Linked DNA regions of Homo sapiens: region 1 is linked to region 2. Evidence: fine-mapped expression QTL. A gene starts in region 2. The other region holds a variant in brackets. All regions are shown on one strand. Distances are from middle to middle. Region 1 overlaps ABCA7 (ATP binding cassette subfamily A member 7). Region 2 holds the start of CNN2 (calponin 2).

Region 1 (10,953 bases), 23 kb after region 2:
GCTTTTTTTTTTTTTTTTTTTTTTTTTAAGAGATGGAGTCTCACTCTGTTGCCCAGGCTGGACTGCAGTGGCGAGATCTTGGCTCACTGCAACCTCCGCCTCCTGGATTCAAGCAATTCTCCTGCTTCAGCCTCACAAGTAACTGGGATTACAGGCATGCGCCACCACTCCCGGCTACTTTTTGTATTTTTAGTAGAGATGGGCTTTCACCATGTTGGCCAGGCTGGTCTCGAACTCCTGACCTCAGGTGATCCACCCGCCTCGCCTCCCAAAGTGCTGGGATTACAGGCATGAGCCACTGTGCCCGACCCAGACTCTCACTTTCACCTGCGCCCCCCAGCGGCTCCTGCAGATGCAGGATGAAGGAAGAAGGCAGCCCAGACCTGGAGGCCGGGACCACATGGAGGCCCTGCGATCCTTTCTGGACCCTGGGAGCGGTGGCTACAGCTGGCAGGACGCACACGCTGATGTGGGGCACCTGGTGGGCACGCTGGGCCGAGTGACGGAGGTGAGGGCCTGTCCACCTGCGGGGTCTGTTTCAGTGGGGAGGGCAGGTCCCATCCTAGTGTTCCCACCCTGGTGTTCCCAGGGGGAGGCGGGCCCGGCCCTAGTAAGAGCCTGGGATTTGTAGAGATCTCAGGAGGGAGCCGGCCGTGGGCCTACGAGGGGAAAACATGGCCCAGCCCCGAGGTCCAGGGGGAGGAGCGGAGTGGTCTAGGAGGCAGGCGGACCCCAGCGCCTAGGACTCACCCCCGCATCCCACAGTGCCTGTCCTTGGACAAGCTGGAGGCGGCACCCTCAGAGGCAGCCCTGGTGTCGCGGGCCCTGCAACTGCTCGCGGAACATCGATTCTGGGCCGGCGTCGTCTTCTTGGGACCTGAGGACTCTTCAGACCCCACAGAGCACCCAACCCCAGACCTGGGCCCCGGCCACGTGCGCATCAAAATCCGCATGGACATTGACGTGGTCACGAGGACCAATAAGATCAGGGACAGGTCAGGCGAGGGAGGGGGCGGGGGGATGAGGGACTGGGCGGGGCCAAGAGCGTGGTGGGTGGGGCCAGGCAGCATTCAGCCTATTGGAGACCATGATAGACAGGATCTGGGCTGTATCAACAGTGGTATGGTAGCCAGAGCCCGGGGCTCCTTAGACCAATAGGGGCCCGTGATGGGCGGGGCCTAGGTGCATGAGGGGCGTGGCCATGGGCCTGAGATAAGATGAGAGCAGGTATAGGTTGAGGGCAATGGTGGGCGGAGCCAGGTGTATTATTAGGTCCCTGGAATAAGGGTGGAGCTAAAATTGCACCGGGTGCTGAGCGCAGTAGATCTTGCCTGTTATCTCAGAACTTTGGGAGGCCAAAGTGGGAGAATCTCTTGAGGACAGGTATTCGAGACTAGCCTGGGCAACATAGTGAGACCGCCTCCCCCCCGCCCCCCTCCCCCACCAACCTCACGAAAATATCTTTAAAAATTAGCCAGGTGAGGCCGGGCACAGTGGCTCACGCCTGTAATCCCAGCACTTTGGGAGGCTGAGGCGGGCGGATCACGAGGTCAGGAGATCAAGACCATCCTGACTAACTCGGTGAAACCCTGCCTCTACTAAAAAAAAAAAGTACAAAAAATTAGCCGGGCGTGGTAGCACGCGCCTGTAGGCCCAGCTACCCAGGAGGCTGAGGCAGGAGAATCGCTTGAACCCAGGAGGCGGAGGTTGCAGTGAGCCGAGATGGCGCCACTGCACTCCAGCCTGGGCGATAGAGCGAGACTCCGTCTCAAACAAATGAATAAATGAATAAAATTAGCCAGGCGACTTGGGAGGCCGAGCTGGGGGGATCGTTTGATCCCGGGAGGTCAAGGCTGCAGTGAGCTATGATTGCAGCTCTTCACTCCAGCCTGGGCGACAGAGCAAGACCCTGTCTAAGAAAAAGGTTATTCAGGGTGGGGCCCCGGGAGTTTCTAGCCCTTCCCTACAACCGGCCACCATGCCCCTCTCGCAGGTTTTGGGACCCTGGCCCAGCCGCGGACCCCCTGACCGACCTGCGCTACGTGTGGGGCGGCTTCGTGTACCTGCAAGACCTGGTGGAGCGTGCAGCCGTCCGCGTGCTCAGCGGCGCCAACCCCCGGGCCGGCCTCTACCTGCAGCAGATGCCCTATCCGTGCTATGTGGACGACGTGTGAGCTCTGGCACCCCTCCCCGCTCTTCCCCGCGGCGGGAAGGTCCCGGGTGTGGGGGTGGGCCCAGGCTCTGTTGGGAACCTTCCTGCGGTCCAGGCTGCGAACTTTGCACCTTTACACCACTCCACGTGACCTGCTGCAGCGGGAGGAGCAGGGGACTCTGAGGGTCTGGTGGGGGGGGGGACTCTGAGGGTCTGGGGGCCCCCGGCGCAGGGACAGCCTGGGCTGCACTGATGCCTGAGAGCCAAAGGCTGGCTGGATCAGGTTCCAAGGAACAGGGAGGCAAATCTTCCCGCCTTGAGATCCCGGGACACGAACCAGTCGTGCCAGATGGTGGGCGGAGGGGGGGTCTGCGGAGGGTCTCCAGCCTCCACCCCAGCCGTCCCCACCCCAGGTTCCTGCGTGTGCTGAGCCGGTCGCTGCCGCTCTTCCTGACGCTGGCCTGGATCTACTCCGTGACACTGACAGTGAAGGCCGTGGTGCGGGAGAAGGAGACGCGGCTGCGGGACACCATGCGCGCCATGGGGCTCAGCCGCGCGGTGCTCTGGCTAGGCTGGTTCCTCAGCTGCCTCGGGCCCTTCCTGCTCAGCGCCGCACTGCTGGTTCTGGTGCTCAAGGTGGGCGCGCCTCGGCCTGCCCGGCTGCAGAATGGGTGCGCTGGAGGGTGACAGACAGGGGCGGCCCCACGTGGGTGCGCGCCCCCAGGCCAATCCAGGAGCTGCACCCTAAGCTCCCGTTGCCTCTCACAGCTGGGAGACATCCTCCCCTACAGCCACCCGGGCGTGGTCTTCCTGTTCTTGGCAGCCTTCGCGGTGGCCACGGTGACCCAGAGCTTCCTGCTCAGCGCCTTCTTCTCCCGCGCCAACCTGGCTGCGGCCTGCGGCGGCCTGGCCTACTTCTCCCTCTACCTGCCCTACGTGCTGTGTGTGGCTTGGCGGGACCGGCTGCCCGCGGGTGGCCGCGTGGCCGCGGTGAGAGCCGGGTCGGGCGTGGATGGGGGACGCCCCCCGCTTCGGCCGCTCACTGACCGCCCGCTTTTCCGCAGAGCCTGCTGTCGCCCGTGGCCTTCGGCTTCGGCTGCGAGAGCCTGGCTCTGCTGGAGGAGCAGGGCGAGGGCGCGCAGTGGCACAACGTGGGCACCCGGCCTACGGCAGACGTCTTCAGCCTGGCCCAGGTCTCTGGCCTTCTGCTGCTGGACGCGGCGCTCTACGGCCTCGCCACCTGGTACCTGGAAGCTGTGTGCCCAGGTGGGCCGTAGGGGGCGGGGCTCCGGGCCGGGTCGCACCTGCTTTGCGGGAGGCTGAGCTAGGGGTGTGGCCTCCAGGCCGTTTGGGGGTGGGGGGTGGCTTATTCCCTTGGAGAGAAGGCGGGGCTTCTTGGCACACGCATGCAGGTGGCTGCATTGGAGGGGCGGGGCCTGAGGCAGGTGGGCGGGGTTTCTGGGCCGCCTCATACCTGGACGCCCTGATTCCAGGTGTATGGCCAGAAGCTGGCACAGTCGCCGGGCGCTGTGGCTCACGCTTGTAATCCCAGCACTTTGGGAGGCCAAGGCAGGAGAATCGCTTGAGCCCAGGAGTTTGAGACCAGGCTGGGCAATATAGTGAGACCTCATCAATACAAAAAGTTAGCTGGGCGTGGTGGCACGCTGGGCGTGGTGGCACGCTCCTGTAGTCCCAGCTACTCGGGAGGATGGGGTGGGAGGATCACTCGAGCCCAGGAGGTTGAGGCTGCTGTGAGCCGTGATCCCACCAGCCTGGGCAACAGAGTGAGACCTCCATCTCTTTAAAAAAAAAAAAAAAAAAAAAGCTGGCTGGGTGCGGTGGCTCACGCCTGTAATCCCAGCACTTTGGGAGGCCGAGGCGGGCGGGTCATCTGAGGTCGGGATTTCGAGACCAGCCTGACCAACATGGAGAAACCCCGTCTCTACTAAAAATACAAAATTAGCTGGGTGTGGTGGCGGGTGCCTGTTTCCTAGCTACTTGGAAGGCAGAGGCAGGAGAAATGCTTGAATCCCGGAGGCGGAGGTTGCGGTGAGTCGAGATCGCGCCACTGCACTCCAGCCTGGGCAACAAGAGTGAAACTCAGTCTCAAAAAAAAAAAAACAAAAAAAAAAAAAACAAGGCCGGGCACGGTGGCTCACGCCTGCTTTCCCAGCACTTTGGGAGGCCGAGGTGGGCAGATCACGAGGTCAGGAGATGGAGACCATCCTGGCTAACACGGTGAAACCCCGTCTCTCCCAAAAATACAAAAAATTATCCAGGCATGGTGGCGGGCGCCTGTAGTCCCAGCTACTCAGGAGGCTGAGGCAGGAGAATGACGTGAACTGGGGAGGCGGAGCTTGCAGCGAGTCAAAATCGTGCCACTGCACTCCAGCCTGGGCAACAGAGCAAGACTCCGTCTCAAAAAAAAAAAAAAACAAAACCCCAAAAAAAGCCTGGTACACTCCTGGGGGGTGGGCTAAGCAATAACCCGCGCCCCTCCCCGCAGGCCAGTACGGGATCCCTGAACCATGGAATTTTCCTTTTCGGAGGAGCTACTGGTGCGGACCTCGGCCCCCCAAGAGTCCAGCCCCTTGCCCCACCCCGCTGGACCCAAAGGGTGAGGCACTACGAGGCTTAATAGCTGGTTGTCCACATATGCCCAGTTCCCCCCCAAAACGAGATTCCACAGATGCCAATGACAATGACCTGGACACCCCAACCCTCACACCTGCCCTGAAGACACTGCGGTCCCCAAGCTCCCGCAGCTTTTATAGGCCCCGGCCCAGCAGGTCCCGGATTCCACAGCCCAGCTCTGAGGGACTTGCAGGCCCCAGGACCCCCATGACCTCCATGGCTGAGTCCACCCCATCTCTGCAGTGCTGGTAGAAGAGGCACCGCCCGGCCTGAGTCCTGGCGT[C/A]TCCGTTCGCAGCCTGGAGAAGCGCTTTCCTGGAAGCCCGCAGCCAGCCCTGCGGGGGCTCAGCCTGGACTTCTACCAGGGCCACATCACCGCCTTCCTGGGCCACAACGGGGCCGGCAAGACCACCACCCTGTGAGCCCCCAACCACTCCCTCCCCGTGAGCCCCCCCACTCCCACCCCGTGAGCCCCCCCACCACTCCCTCCCCGTGAGCCCCCCACCACTCCCTCCCCGTGAACCCCCCACCACTCCCTCCCCGTGAGCCCCCCCACCACTCCCTCCCCGTGAGCCCCCCACCACTCCCTCCCCGTGAACCCCCCACCACTCCCTCCCCGTGAGCCCCCCCACCACTCCCTCCCCGTGAACCCCCCACCACTCCCTCCCCGTGAGCCCCCCCACCACTCCCTCCCCGTGAGGCCCCCCACCACTCCCTCCCCGTGAACCCCCCACCACTCCCTCCCCGTGAGCCCCCCCACCACTCCCTCCCCGTGAACCCCCCACCACTCCCTCCCCGTGAGCCCCCCCACCACTCCCTCCCTGTGAGCCCCCCGACCGCTCCCTCCCCGTGAGCCCCCCCACCACTCCCTCCCTGTGAGCCCCCCCACCACTCCCTCCCTGTGAGTTCCCCCACCACTCCCTCCCTGTGAGTCCCCCACCACTCCCTCCCTGTGAGCCGCCCAAACCACTCCCTCCCTGTGAGCCCCCCACCACTTCCTCCCTGTGAGCTCCCTGTGAGGCCCCCGACCAGTCCCTCCCTGTGAGCAGTAATGGCGCCACTGCACTCCAGCTTGGGCAACGGAGTAAGACCCTGTCTCAAAATAAATAGGGCGGGAGTGGTGGCTCACGCCTGTAATCCCAGCACTTGGGCAAGCCGAGGTGGGAGGATTGCCTGAGGTCAGAGTTTGAGACACAGCCTGGCCAATATGGCAAAACCATCTCTACTAAAAATACAAAAATTAGCCGGGTGTGATGGTGGCGTGCACCTGTAATCCCAGCTACTCAGGAGGCTGAGGCAGGAGAACTGCTTGAACCCTGGAGGCGGAGGTTGCAGTGAGCCGAGACTGTGCCGTTGCACTCCAGCCTGGGCAACAGAGTGAGACTCTGTCACAAAAAAATAAAAATAAACAAATAAATAAAAATAAGGCTATCACAGGGTTTTGGATGTAGCATTTAATAGGTGCTCTGTGGCCAGGCGTGGTGGCTCAGGCCTGCAATCCCAGCACTTTGGGGGGCCGAGGCGGGTGGATCACGAGGTCAGGAGATTGAGATCATCCTGGCTAACATGGTGAAACAGTGAAACCCCGTCTCTACTAAAAATGCAAAAAAATTAGCCGGACATGGTGGCGGGCGCCTGTAGTCCCAGCTACTCGGGAGGCTGAGGCAGGAGAATGGCGTGAACCCGGGAGGTGGAGCTTGCAGTGAGCCGAGATCGTGCCGCTGCACTCCAGCCTGGGCAACAGAGTGAAACTCCGTCTCAAAAATAATAATAATAATAATAATAATAATAATAATAATAAATAATTAAAAATTTTTTAAAAACAGAAATTAAAAATAGAAGCTCTGTAACTGCCAGTGCACTCTGTGAAGGGGGCTACTCTGAGACCCCTCTATCCACAGGTCCATCTTGAGTGGCCTCTTCCCACCCAGTGGTGGCTCTGCCTTCATCCTGGGCCACGACGTCCGCTCCAGCATGGCCGCCATCCGGCCCCACCTGGGCGTCTGTCCTCAGTACAACGTGCTGTTTGACATGTGCGTCTCGGCAGGCCCAGAGTGCAGCGGTGGGAAGGGACTGGACGCCCTCTGGGACTCTGCCTGCCATGTGGGTCACTCTGCTCTGTGCACTGGCCGCAGGCTGACCGTGGACGAGCACGTCTGGTTCTATGGGCGGCTGAAGGGTCTGAGTGCCGCTGTAGTGGGCCCCGAGCAGGACCGTCTGCTGCAGGATGTGGGGCTGGTCTCCAAGCAGAGTGTGCAGACTCGCCACCTCTCTGGTGAGCCCATCCCCAAGGGAGGTCACCTCACAGGGAGGGGCCTGGGGATTCATCCTGAAGGCAGGGGGAAGCCGGGTACTGAGGTCCACGTGGGTAGGCAACCTTGCCCAAGGCTGGGTGTGACACACTGAGGTCCCTTCCCCATCTCTACCAGGTGGGATGCAACGGAAGCTGTCCGTGGCCATTGCCTTTGTGGGCGGCTCCCAAGTTGTTATCCTGGACGAGCCTACGGCTGGCGTGGATCCTGCTTCCCGCCGCGGTATTTGGGAGCTGCTGCTCAAATACCGAGAAGGTAAGAGCTGGGGATTCTGCTCGAGGGGCCAGAAAAGGCTTCTGACAAGGAAGTGCTGGGGATGGGGTTTTGAGGAATGAGTAGGAGTTTGCTACATGTGGACCCCACTTGTTGCTATGGCATTTAGGGGCTACTGCTCAAATACCGAGACAGTAAGAGTTGGGGATAGACAGAGGTTCCCCTGGATTCTGCCTGAAGGGCCAGAAAAGGTTTCCAACAAGGAGGTTCTGGGGATGAGGTTTTGAGGGATGAATAGGAGTTTGCTTCATGGGGCAGACAACTCCTGGCAGAGGCCCCAGCTCGGGCAAAGACGCGGCGGCCTGATGGTAGTTGTGGGTTGGTCCCCCGTGCCTAGGTCGCACGCTGATCCTCTCCACCCACCACCTGGATGAGGCAGAGCTGCTGGGAGACCGTGTGGCCGTGGTGGCAGGTGGCCGCTTGTGCTGCTGTGGCTCCCCACTCTTCCTGCGCCGTCACCTGGGCTCCGGCTACTACCTGACGCTGGTGAAGGCCCGCCTGCCCCTGACCACCAATGAGAAGGTGGGGACCGGCCTTCTCCTGACCCCTGACCCCCGGGACTCTGTTCAGCCCTGAAGGCCAAGCCACTTGGTGCCTCTCTGCCCGCAGGCTGACACTGACATGGAGGGCAGTGTGGACACCAGGCAGGAAAAGAAGAATGGCAGCCAGGGCAGCAGAGTCGGTGAGGGCCGGGGTGGGAGACCCAAGGCGGGTGGGCAGTGGGGTGGCTGTGCCTTAACTTGAGGAGGAGGAGGGGGAGGGGGAAGAGGAGGAGGAGGGGGAGGAAGCGGCAGAGGAGGTTGAGGCGGAGGAGGAGGGGGAGGAGGAGGGGGAGGAGTAAGAGGTGGAAGGGGAGGCGAAGGGGAGGAGTAGGAGGGAGAGGAGGAGGGGGAGGGAGAGGAGGAGGGGGAGGAGAAGGGGGGAGGAGGAGGGGAAGGGAGAGGAGGAGGGGGAGAAGAAGGGGAGGAGTAGGAGGGGAGCAGAAGGGGAGGAATAGGAGGGGGAGGAGGAGGGGGAGGGAAAGGGGGAGGAGAAGGGGGAGAAGTAGGAGGAAGAGGAGGGGGAGGAGAAGGGGGAGGAGTAGGAGGGAGAGGAGGAGGAGGGAGAGGAGGGGGAGGAGAAGGAGAGGAGGAGGAGAGCACTTGAGAACCTGAGATGATGCCCCCATCCCTGGGCTGAGCCGGAACCATGAGACTAACTTGAACACTGACCCCACCTTTAACCCAACCAGGGCTGAGCCCAGAGACAAACCTACCCCTGACCTCCAACACTAGGTCCAGCACTGCCCTCAAGATCTCTTTTTGTTTGTTTCTGAGTCTTGCTCTGTCGCCCAGGCTGTAGTGCAGTGGTGTGATCTCAGCTCACTGCAACCTCTGCCTCCTGGGTTCAAGCATTTCTCCTCCCTCAGCCTCTCGAGTAACTGGGATTACAGGTGGGTTCCACCATGCCTGGCTAATTTTTGCATTTTTGGTAGAAATGGGGTTTCACCATGTTGGTCAGGCTGGTCTCAAACTCCTGACCTCAGGTGATCTGCCTGCTTCAACCCTCAAAGTGCTGGGATTACAGGCGTGAGCCACTGCGCCCGGCCGCACCTGGCCTACGTTCTTAACCCTGATCTCTGTCTGCCGGGACAGTCCCCTCACAGGTCACCAATGCCTCTTCCCCAGGGAGACTGGGGTGGGGCGTGAGCCGGGGCTCCCTGAAGCACCCCTTTGTCCACACAGGCACTCCTCAGCTGCTGGCCCTGGTACAGCACTGGGTGCCCGGGGCACGGCTGGTGGAGGAGCTGCCACACGAGCTGGTGCTGGTGCTGCCCTACACGGGTGCCCATGACGGCAGCTTCGCCACACTCTTCCGAGAGCTAGACACGCGGCTGGCGGAGCTGAGGCTCACTGGCTACGGGATCTCCGACACCAGCCTCGAGGAGGTGTGAGGCCTGGGTGGTGGTGAGGTGGGGCCAGGAGGAGGGCTTCCTGGAGGAGGTGGTGTTTTGAAGGATGAATAGCGTGTTTATGAGCAGCAAGGACATTCAGGGAGGAGGCATGGCACATGAGGAGCTCTGGTGGCTCAGATGTCCCTTGGGAAGGCCTGGGGGACCCATGGTGTAGGAGGGGTGGGGGGCTCACAAGCCCCCAGTTCTCCCTGTCGGTGTCCAGTCTCTGAGCCCCTGCTTGTCTCCCCAGATCTTCCTGAAGGTGGTGGAGGAGTGTGCTGCGGACACAGATATGGAGGGTGCGGCCACAGCTCCCTGACCCCTGACCCCAGTCCAGAGTGGGACCAGAGGCCAGGTCCCCATCCCTGGCTTAGTGTGGCCCAAGGCATAGCCTTTACCCTATACCTGATTCCTGATCCCCCAATCCGTGACCCTCAACTTTGACCCTGACCCCTGATGGCCCTGCAGATGGCAGCTGCGGGCAGCACCTATGCACAGGCATTGCTGGCCTAGACGTAACCCTACGGCTCAAGATGCCGCCACAGGAGACAGCGCTGGAGAACGGGGAACCAGGTAAGTCCTTCCCAGTGGCCCTGGGGTCCTCCCAGCCACCCCCCCACAGCAGCGTGAGCACTGACCCTCTCATCCCTCACAGCTGGGTCAGCCCCAGAGACTGACCAGGGCTCTGGGCCAGACGCCGTGGGCCGGGTACAGGGCTGGGCACTGACCCGCCAGCAGCTCCAGGCCCTGCTTCTCAAGCGCTTTCTGCTTGCCCGCCGCAGCCGCCGCGGCCTGTTCGCCCAGGTGAGGAGGGCTAGCACCAGGGAGTCGCATGGGAGTCCCTGAGTTCCCTACCCTGGCCGTCCACTCAGTGGCCTAATCCAAACCCTTACCCCCGTGTGTATTCCCAACCCAAAGCACATTTATTGAGGGCACTGGGGAGCCATGGGTGGTTGTAGAGCAGGAGCAGGGACAGGTGCAAGCAAGCCTGGAGGGTGGATGGAAGCAGCAGCTGATGGGCTGGTCCCCCAGATCGTGCTGCCTGCCCTCTTTGTGGGCCTGGCCCTCGTGTTCAGCCTCATCGTGCCTCCTTTCGGGCACTACCCGGCTCTGCGGCTCAGTCCCACCATGTACGGTGCTCAGGTGTCCTTCTTCAGGTGGGTGCAGAAGGAAGGGGCTGGTGGCAGGAAGACTAGGGACCTGGGGGTACAGCCCTGACCCTACATCTCCCCTCACACACAGTGAGGACGCCCCAGGGGACCCTGGACGTGCCCGGCTGCTCGAGGCGCTGCTGCAGGAGGCAGGACTGGAGGAGCCCCCAGTGCAGCATAGCTCCCACAGGTGAGGCGTCTTGTTGGCCTGGACCTTTCCCCTCTCTGGCCTCAGTTTTCCCATCTGGTCCCTGGCCAGGGAGCCTCAGGGGGCACCTGGAGCATCCCCTGTGCCCACCTGGGAGCTGGGAGCCTCTGTGGCTCCAGGAACCCCCAGAAGCTGGGTGCCCACAGACCTTCACCTTGACCCTGCAGCGCCCTTGAGTGTGCACAGCCCATTGTCTGCAGGTTCTCGGCACCAGAAGTTCCTGCTGAAGTGGCCAAGGTCTTGGCCAGTGGCAACTGGACCCCAGAGTCTCCATCCCCAGCCTGCCAGTGTAG
Region 2 (8,814 bases):
GCTGTGTGCCAATAAAGCTTTGTCTGCAGACACTGGAATTTGAATGTTATGTAATTTCCACGTTTGATAGAATGGTTTTCATATTTTGGGTTTTTTTTTCAACCACTTAAAAATGTAAGAGCCATTCTTAGCTCACAAGCCATACAAAAATAGGCTGCAGCTGGATTTGGCCCACAGGTCAAGAACACAGCTTTCCAAGAGAAAGATAAGCAAATAACAAACATAACTTTAAGTGTTCTGGTAGCCACAGTAAAACAACTAAAAAAGAGCAAGTGAAATTAATTTTAATAATATATTTTACACATCTCAAGTTATCCAAACAAGGTCAGGCGCGGTGGCTCATGCCTGTAATCTCAGCACTTTTGGAGGCTGAGGCGGGAGGATCATTTCAGCCCAGGTGTTCAAGACCAGCCTGGGCAATATAATGAGATCCTGTCTCTACGAAAAATACCAAAAATTAGCTGGGCACGGTGGTGTGTGCCTGTGGTCCCAGCTACTTGGGAGGCTGAGGCAAGAGGATTGCTTAAGCCAAGGAGTTGGAGGCTGCAGTGAGCTGTGATGGCACCATTGCACTCCAGCCTGGGCAACAGAGCAAGACCCCACCTCATAAACGAAAAAAAAGTGGCCGGGCGCGGTGGCTGACACCTGTAATCCCAGCACTTGGGAGGCCGAGGCGGGCGGATCACGAGGTCAGGAGATCGAGACCACCCTGGCAAACACGGTGAAACCCTGTCTCTACTAAAAATACAAAAATATTAGCTGGGTGTGGTGGCGGGCGCCTGTAGTCCCAGCTGCTCGGGAGGCTGAGGCAGAAGAATGGCCTGAACCCGGGAGGCGGAGCTTGCAGTGAGCCGAGATCACGCCACTGCACCCCAGCCTGGGTGACAGAGCGAGACTACTTCTCAAAAAAAAAAAAAAAAAAAAAGTAACTGAGATGTACCAAGTCTTCAGAATCTGGTGTGTTTCCCATCCATGGGGTGTTCCAATATGGATACCAGTGCTTCCTCAGAAATACTTATCTCCACAGTATTTAGATTTACAGCGTTTATACTGAAAAGGAAAATTCAGAAACGCTAAGGTATTTAAAATATACACGAGGCTGAGCACGGTGGCTCACGCCTGCAATCCCAGCACTTTGGGAGGCTGAGGCGGGAGGATCACTTGAATCCAGACTGGGCAACATAGGGAGACCCCATCTCTACAAAAAATTTAAAAATTAGCTAGGCATATGGCACATGCCTGTAGTCCCAGATACTCAGGAGGCTGAGGCAGGAGATTACTTGAGTCCAGGAGGTCGAGGCTGCAGTGAACTATATTTGCACCACTGCACTCCAGCCTGGGTGACAGAGCAAGACCCTGTTTCAAATATCTATATATTTACATTTATATGTATAATGTGTACATATGTGTGTATTTATGTATTTGAAAACTTTAATGTGTGTGTACATATATATATAGTCAAAAACGGAAATCATGTCAGTTTTTAATTTTTAACTGAAATTAATTGAAATAGCCCGGCCACGGCAGCTGACACCTATAATCCCAGCACTTCGGAAGGCTGAGGCCGGCGGATCACTTGAGGTCAGGAGTTCAAGACCAGCCTGGCCAACATGGTGAAACCCGCATCTCTACTAAAAATGCAAAAATTAGCCAGGCGTGGTGGTGCGTGTCTACGGTCCCAGCTACTCGGAGTCCCAGCTACATATATATGTGTATTTATATATATGTGTCTTCAAAAAATGGAATCTAGTGCCAGTTTTTAATTTTTAATTGAAATTTAAGAATAGGAAGTATTTGCTGGGTGCGGTGGCTCACACCTGTAATCCCAGCACTTTGGGAGGCTGAGGCGGGCAGATCACGAGGTCAGGAGATCGAGACCATCCTGGATAACACAGTGAAACCCCGTCTCTACTAAAAATACAAAAATTAGCTGGGTGTGGAGGTGTGCCTGTAGTCCCAGCTGCTGGGGAGGCTGAGGCAGGAGAATGGCGTGAACCCAGGAGGTGGAGCTTGCAGTGAGCCAAGATTGCGCCACTGCACTCCAGCCTGGGTGACAGAGCGAGACTCCGTCTCAAAAAATAATAATAAAATAAAATAAAAAGAACATGAAGTATTTGCTTCCCTGATGGCACCAGCCACACTTCCAGTGCTCAGTAGCCCCATGGCCAGTGGCTACAGTAGTAGATAGTGCCACATTGAAAATTTCCTTCATCTCAGAATAACAGAAATGGTCAGCACTGGTCTAAAATGACATGGGTCGGCCAGGTGCAGTGGTTCAAGCCTGTAATCACAGTACTTTGGGAGGCTGAGGCGGGTGGATCACCTGAGGTCAGGGGTTCGAGACCAGCCTGGCCAACATGGTGAAACCCCATCTCTACTAAAAATAAAATAAAATAAAATAAAATAAAATAAAATAAAATAAAATAAAATAAAATGTGTCAAACTCCTATTGATGCTTCAAAACCCCATCTCCCTTGCCTCCTCTTACATGCAGCTTTCCTTGATTCCTCCGACAGAGCCCCAACTCTCCCTCCAGTTCCTCCAGCCCCAAGCCTCTCATTCTGTCCTGTACTTGCTCATATAGGGAAACAGGGTGGGCGGGGTGGGGGGGTTCCGCCTGTGCTGGCTCATACAGGGAATCCGGGTTGGGGGTTGGTCTGTGCCAGCTCTGTCTTCCTGGGCATGGGCTGGGCCAGAGCTAAGGTCTCCTGAGAGCCAGCACTGCCTGGCAGGAGACTGTCCCGGAGACTTTTTAATAATTTATTATTATTAGGGTTTTTTTGTGTTTTTTTTTTTTGTTTTTTTTTTTAAGACGGAGTCTTGCTCTGTCGCCCAGGCTGGAGTGCAGTGGCGCGATCTCGACTTACTACAACCTCCGCCTCCTGGCTTCAAGTGATCCTCCCACCTCAGCCTCCTCAGTAGCTGGAATTACAGGCATGTGCCCCCATGCCCGGCTAATTTTTGTATTTTTAGTAGAGACGGAGTTTCGCCATGTTAGCCAAGCTGGTCTGGAACTCCTGACCTCAAGTGATCCGCCCGCCTCGGCCTTCCAAAGTGCTGGGATTGCAGGCGTGAGCCACTCGGATTTTTATTTTTATTTATTTATTTATTTTTAGAGAGAGGCTCTTGCTCTGCTGCCCAGGCTGGAGCGTCATGTTGTGATGATAACTCACTGCAGCTTCGACCTCTTGGGCTCAACGGATCCTCCCCCTTCGGCCTCAGCCTCCCAAGTAGCTAGAACTCCAGGTGCAAGCTACCGCACCCAGTAAGAATCCTATTCTCTTTTGGACTGACAAACTCCTACTCATCCAACAAAGCCCCAGCTCCAATGGCCCCTTCTCTGAGGAACCTGCCCTGGTTCCCTGGTCCACCTCCCAGCTAGTAGAGTTCCCTGGGAAGGGGTTAGACGCCTCTAAGTGGCAGAGAGGGGCCCTCATTCCTGCCCCAAAGGTAGCCTTCTCCCCTCCCCTTTCTGGCAGAAGAGAAGTCTGAGATGGAGAAAGAGTGAGAGCCGCCCACGAGCTCTGAGCAGAGAGCCCGCAGGAGTGCCACGTCCCGGCGGCCTCGGCCCCTCCCTGCCTCAGTTTCCCGTGGCATCAAAGGGGGCGAGGGGCCCCTCCAGGCCTCTGGTGACGGGGGTGCTGTGCCCAGGCGGGGGTCCGGGGGCGACCGAGGGGGCTCAGGAAGTCCGCGGCCGCAGGAATTCGGCGCCTCCAGGCCTTATAAGGACATTTGCGCTCCGGGCCAATCAGCGGCGGGGGCGTGGCGCGCGGAGCCCGGCGCGTCCCAACCCCGCGCCAGCCCGGCGGTCCCGTCCCGTCCCGTCCTGTGCGGCCCCGTCCCGCCGCCCGCCCGCCAGCCATGAGCTCCACGCAGTTCAACAAGGGCCCCTCGTACGGGCTGTCGGCCGAGGTCAAGAACCGGGTGAGTGAGGGGCGCCCCTTGTCCCCCCGACAGCGCGGCCGTCGCACGCTCCGACCGGTGCAGGAGCCCCCAGGCGCCCCCGGCACCTCCCGGGCAGGGAGCTTGGAGACCCGGGGCGGACGGGCCCTTGTTCTCCCTGACGCCTGGTGGGGGGATGTCTGCGGGCACCCCCTGAGGCTCCCGCGAATCTTGGGGAGCACCCAGGTCTGAGATCTGGGGGACGAGTGACCCATTCCCCCCCCCAACATCTAGGGGTAGTTGGGTCTGACTTCGTCCCCTCGCCATGGCCCCAGGACCCCCACGTGTGAAGCCCCTGGCGCCCACTCAACCTTCGAGAAGGTCCGTTCAAGGTCCGACAACGCTCTGGGGGTCTGGGGGGGACCCCAGCAACCCCGTCATCTCCTGGCCACACTTCTGCTTTTGGGGCCTCTTAGCTTTGGGAGGGGAAGGGGCATGGCCGAGTGGTTTTTGAGAAGTGTTACCCCCCCACAAACAGGAATTTCCTGGCCTCTGGGACACCTTGGGGGTGTCTTGGGGGGAGGGGCGGTAGCCGCTTTGCACGGTCTTTGTCTCCCATCTGACTAATTTAAACGGATAACAAAGAGGTTCTCTGAAGGTGGCCCTGAGATATGTGGGGTTTTGCAGCCTCGAAAGAAGAGCTGGGGCCCGGCAGGGCGCGGGGGCTCACGCCCGTAATCCCAGCACTTTGGGGGGCGGAGCTGGGTGGATGGCTTGAGCCCAGCGAGTTCGAGACCAGTCTGGGCAACATGGCGAAACCCCATCTCTATAATTAAAAACAAGCCAGGGCTAGGGGAGACACTTTTTAAGAGAGCACTTGTGGTTCTAGCTCAGAGAGGACCAGACACTTCTGCAGGGTCACACAGCAGGGTCCTGGACAGGATTCCCAGGGAAAGTGGGGGGCGGGGGTTGTGATGCGAGACCCACGGACAGGACCGGGACCTGACCCTCCAGGACCTTCCAGCTGGAGGGGGGTGTCGTCCCCGCCCACCCCCTCCCCCGACGCCCACTGGGCACCTGGGAAGGTGTCCTTACAGCTGACTTCTGCAGGGGAAACTGCCTCTGCACGCTCTGAGGGCACCGGCCCTGCCAGCCCCAACAGCCACCTGCCCGGCGGCACTCCAGGGCCGGCAGACTGGAGGGAGAATTCCTGCTTCCCCGCTGTGAGCCCCTGCAAGCCTTCAGACCAGCTCTTGGCCAAAAAGGGAGGCTGAGGCTTGGGGTGGTCAAGGCCTGAGCCAGGGTCCCCAGCCCGGGGCTCACGACTCCTCCTTCAAGGGGCCATCTGCACCCTGCATTCATAGAGCCCCCCGTGCAGTGGGGTGGGCACCCTGCCGCACCCTGCATACAGCCGGCTAAGGGCACCGGTGTCCACAGGGACCCAGAGACGTCGTTCCAGCTGCCCAGGGCCACACAGCCCACAAGTGACAGGGCCAAGACCGGAACCCAGTACCTGCTGGGCCTGCGGAAGTGGGAGCGGGCACAGGAGGGTGGGGCGGCTTCCGGAGACGGGGTGGGGTGGGGTGGGGGCAGGTTGATACCTGCCCTGGCGGGGGTGAGGACAGAGGCTGGAAGAGCCGCTTAGCAGGCTCCCCGCGCAACCCTCAGTCTGTCCGTTTGGAGGGTGGGCGAGGCGTCGGCCAGCTTGCCAGGGTCACGGAAGGGTCGCCTCCCAATTAGAAACCAGCTTCCCCCTGGCTTCCCGCTCACACCCGCTTTACCGGCTGCTTGAAACAGCCAGAGACCCGCCCCCCGCCCCGCTTCCCCGTGGCTCAGTTGACTCCCGGCTGGACGGCACGGAGGCAGCTCGGATCCACAGTGTCTGCGGCCTTGCATCCCGGCTTGGGGGTCCGGACCCGCTGGGAACAGCTGGTTCAGATTTAGCCGGGGAGGCAGCGCGCATTCCTGGCAGTTTGTGGTGAACAGGAATGTGCTGGAAGGCCGGCGGCCGGGCAGCGGGGGGGCGGGGGTGGGGGAGGACGGCAGCGGCTGGGGGTGGGGCCAGGGGACCTGGGCCCCTGAGCCGGCAGAGACGCGGCGCAGCTGGGCAAGGCAGGGCTGTGTACCCAGCAGCCACCGTTCTCATTCCTCGGGATCAAAGTTGCCGGCGGGGCGGGGCTGCCCCCGGGCGTGGAAAGCCAAGCTGGGTGGGCTGTGAGCTGGTACTGGGGGGCCTCCCCGCCTTTGCCTCCTCTGGGCTACGAGCTGTTTCCAGGCAGGTGCCAGGTCAGGGGACCCTAACCCAAATAATCCCAGGCAGGTCCAGGTCAGGGGACCCTATCCCAAATAATCCCAGGCAGGTCCAGCTCAGGGGACCCTAACCCAAATCATCCCAGGCAGGTCCAGCTCAGGGGACCCTAACCCAAATCATCCCAGGCAGGTCCAGCTCAGGGGACCCTAACCCAAATCATCCCAGGCAGGTCCAGCTCAGGGGACCCTACCCAAATCATTCCAGGCAGATCTAGCTCAGGGGACCCTAACCCAAATCATCCCAGGCAGGTCCAGCTCAGGGGACCCTAACCCAAATCATCCCAGGCAGGTCCAGCTCAGGGGACCCTAACCCAAATCATCCCAGGCAGGTCCAGGTCAGGGGACCCTACCCAAATCATCCCAGGCAGGTCTAGCTCAGGGGACCCTAACCCAAATCATCCCAGGCAGGTCCAGCTCAGGGGACCCTAACCCAAATCATCCCAGGCAGGTCCAGCTCAGGGGACCCTAACCCAAATCATCCTAGGCAGGTCCAGCTCAGGGGACCCTAACCCAAATCATCCCAGGCAGGTCCAGCTCAGGGGACCCTAACCCAAATCATCCCAGGCAGGTCCAGGTCAGGGGACCCTAACCCAAATAATCCCAGGAAGAGATGAGGAAGCGGAGGCTGAGTGGGGAGCTGTCCGCGGGAACCTGGGGAGATGGGTGCAGAGCAGGGAGAGGGATTTGATTTTTTTTTTCCTTCTCTCTTTTCTTTCTTTTTTTTTTTAAGACAGAGGCTCACTCTGTTCCAGGCTGGAGTGAAGTGGCCCGATCTTGGCTCACTGCCTCCTCTGCCTCCTGGGTTCAAGCGATTCTCCTGCCTCAGCCTCCCAAGTAGCTGGGACTACAGGTGCCCACCACCACGCCCAGCTCATTTTTGTATTTTAGTACAGACGGGATTTCACCATGTGGGCTAGGCCAGTCTCGAACTCCTGACCTCAGATGATCCGCCCGCCTTGGCCTCCCAAAGTGCTGGGATTGTAGGTGTGAGCCACCGCACCCAGCCCAAACCCTACTTTATTCTCCCTCCAGCGTTTATCTCCCGCTCCCGCTACACGACCTGCCCCCATGCTTATGGCCCCCTATACACTTTGCCGTCTGCCTCAGTGCTGTCTCCGCGGTCACTAGTGGCTGGATAGGGACACTCGAGGTCCCCACTGGTGCACACCCACTGCCCAGGAGCACACAGCCCATTCCCCACGGCGGTGTCTCAGAGCACCGAAGGCCAAGAAAGCTGGAATGGCCGGGTGCAGAAAGGTGGCAGGGAATCGGTGGCAAGGAGCCAGGTGCGTGACTAGAGGCGGTCAGCCTCGGGGGCAGCTCCTTCGGGAGTTGCTAAGAAGCAGGATGGGGGCCGGGCGCGGTGGCTCACACCTGTAATCCCAGCACTTTGGAGGGCTGAGACGGGCAGATCACGAGGTCAGGAGATGGAGACCATCTTGGCTAACACGGTGAAACCCCGTCTCTATTAAAAATACAAAAAATGAGCTGGGCCTGGTGGCGGGCGCCTGCAGTCCCAGCTACTCGGGAGGCTGAGGCAGGAGAATGGCCTGAACCGGGGAGGCGGAGCTTGCAGTGAGCCGAGATCGCACCACTGCACTCCAGCCTGGGCGACAGAGTGAGACTCTGTCTCAAAAAAAATAAAAAAGAAAAAAGAGCTGATGGTTGCACAACATTGCAGACGTACGAAATGCTGTGAAATGGTGCGGTTTCAGGTGGTTGAAGTGGTAAACGTCAGGTGTGATATAGCGGGGAGGTGAGAAGGCAGGGCGGGGAGGCAGATCCGGCCAGGTTTGTCCTGCACCGGGAGTGGATTAGAGCTGATGTTTATCAGTGAGTTCTAAGCCGGTTGTCGGCCTGCTTGGAGGGCGGTTTATCTGTGCCCGCCTGCAGTGGCTGGGGCGCCCCCAATGATGGGAAAAGGGAGCATCTGCGTGGGTGTGGTGAGGGGGGACCTCCAGGCCGCTCTATCTGCTGTTGCCCTGGAGTCCCCGGCCCCACCCTCTGCAGAGCTTCTGTGGGGTTCCTGCTGGGGGTGCCCCCAGCCCAGCTCAGTCTCGTGCCCTTTGCTCCACCAGCTCCTGTCCAAATATGACCCCCAGAAGGAGGCAGAGCTCCGCACCTGGATCGAGGGACTCACCGGCCTCTCCATCGGCCCCGACTTCCAGAAGGGCCTGAAGGATGGAACTATCTTATGCACGTGAGTACACGCAGGGACACAGGCTGTCTCACACTTAACAAATCTTGGTTTTTCTCACTTTTTTTCTTAATTAAGAAATTTTTGGGGGGCCGGGCATGGCCTGGCTCATGCCTGTAATCCCAGCACTTTTGGAGGCCGAGGGTGGTGGCGGGGGGCGGTGGATCTCGAGGTCAGGAGTTCGAGACCAGCCTGGCCAACATGGTGAAACCCCGTCTGTACTAATAATACAAAAAAATTAGCCAGGCACCTGTAATCCCAGCTACTCAGGAGGCTGAGGAAGGAGAATTGCTTGAACCCGGGAGGCGGAGGTTGCAGTGAGCCGAGATCACACCATTGCACTCCAGCCGGGGTGACACAGCGAGACTCCATCTCAAAAAAAAAAAAAAAAAAAAAAAAAAGTTAGCTGGGCGTGGTGGCTAAAT

The links. PIP is the estimated chance that this variant, and not a neighbour inherited with it, causes the effect.
Region 1: its variant is the best candidate, but not a certain one, in a credible set for the expression of CNN2 in whole blood (INTERVAL, PIP 0.87).

The regions. Positions count from the first base shown.
Region 1 is chr19:1,044,237-1,055,189 of GRCh38, forward strand. ABCA7 (ATP binding cassette subfamily A member 7) reads left to right here. Exons shown (of 47, transcript NM_019112.4): 11 at 341-508; 12 at 766-995; 13 at 1,994-2,170; 14 at 2,566-2,788; 15 at 2,921-3,142; 16 at 3,217-3,418; 17 at 4,659-4,769; 18 at 5,030-5,201; 19 at 6,685-6,816; 20 at 6,919-7,058; 21 at 7,213-7,350; 22 at 7,706-7,890; 23 at 7,978-8,050; 24 at 9,093-9,295; 6 more. Among named protein-coding and RNA genes, the nearest start is that of ABCA7, 9.6 kb to the left of the region's middle. RefSeq lists silencers at 990-1,139, 1,230-1,279, 6,880-7,044, 7,301-7,501. The variant C/A (reference allele first, on the strand shown) is at 5,070.
Region 2 is chr19:1,022,801-1,031,614 of GRCh38, forward strand. CNN2 (calponin 2) reads left to right here and starts at 3,808. Exons shown (of 7, transcript NM_004368.4): 1 at 3,808-3,924; 2 at 8,271-8,392. The coding sequence starts at 3,862. RefSeq lists an enhancer at 2,734-3,465 and silencers at 3,456-4,095, 5,585-5,760.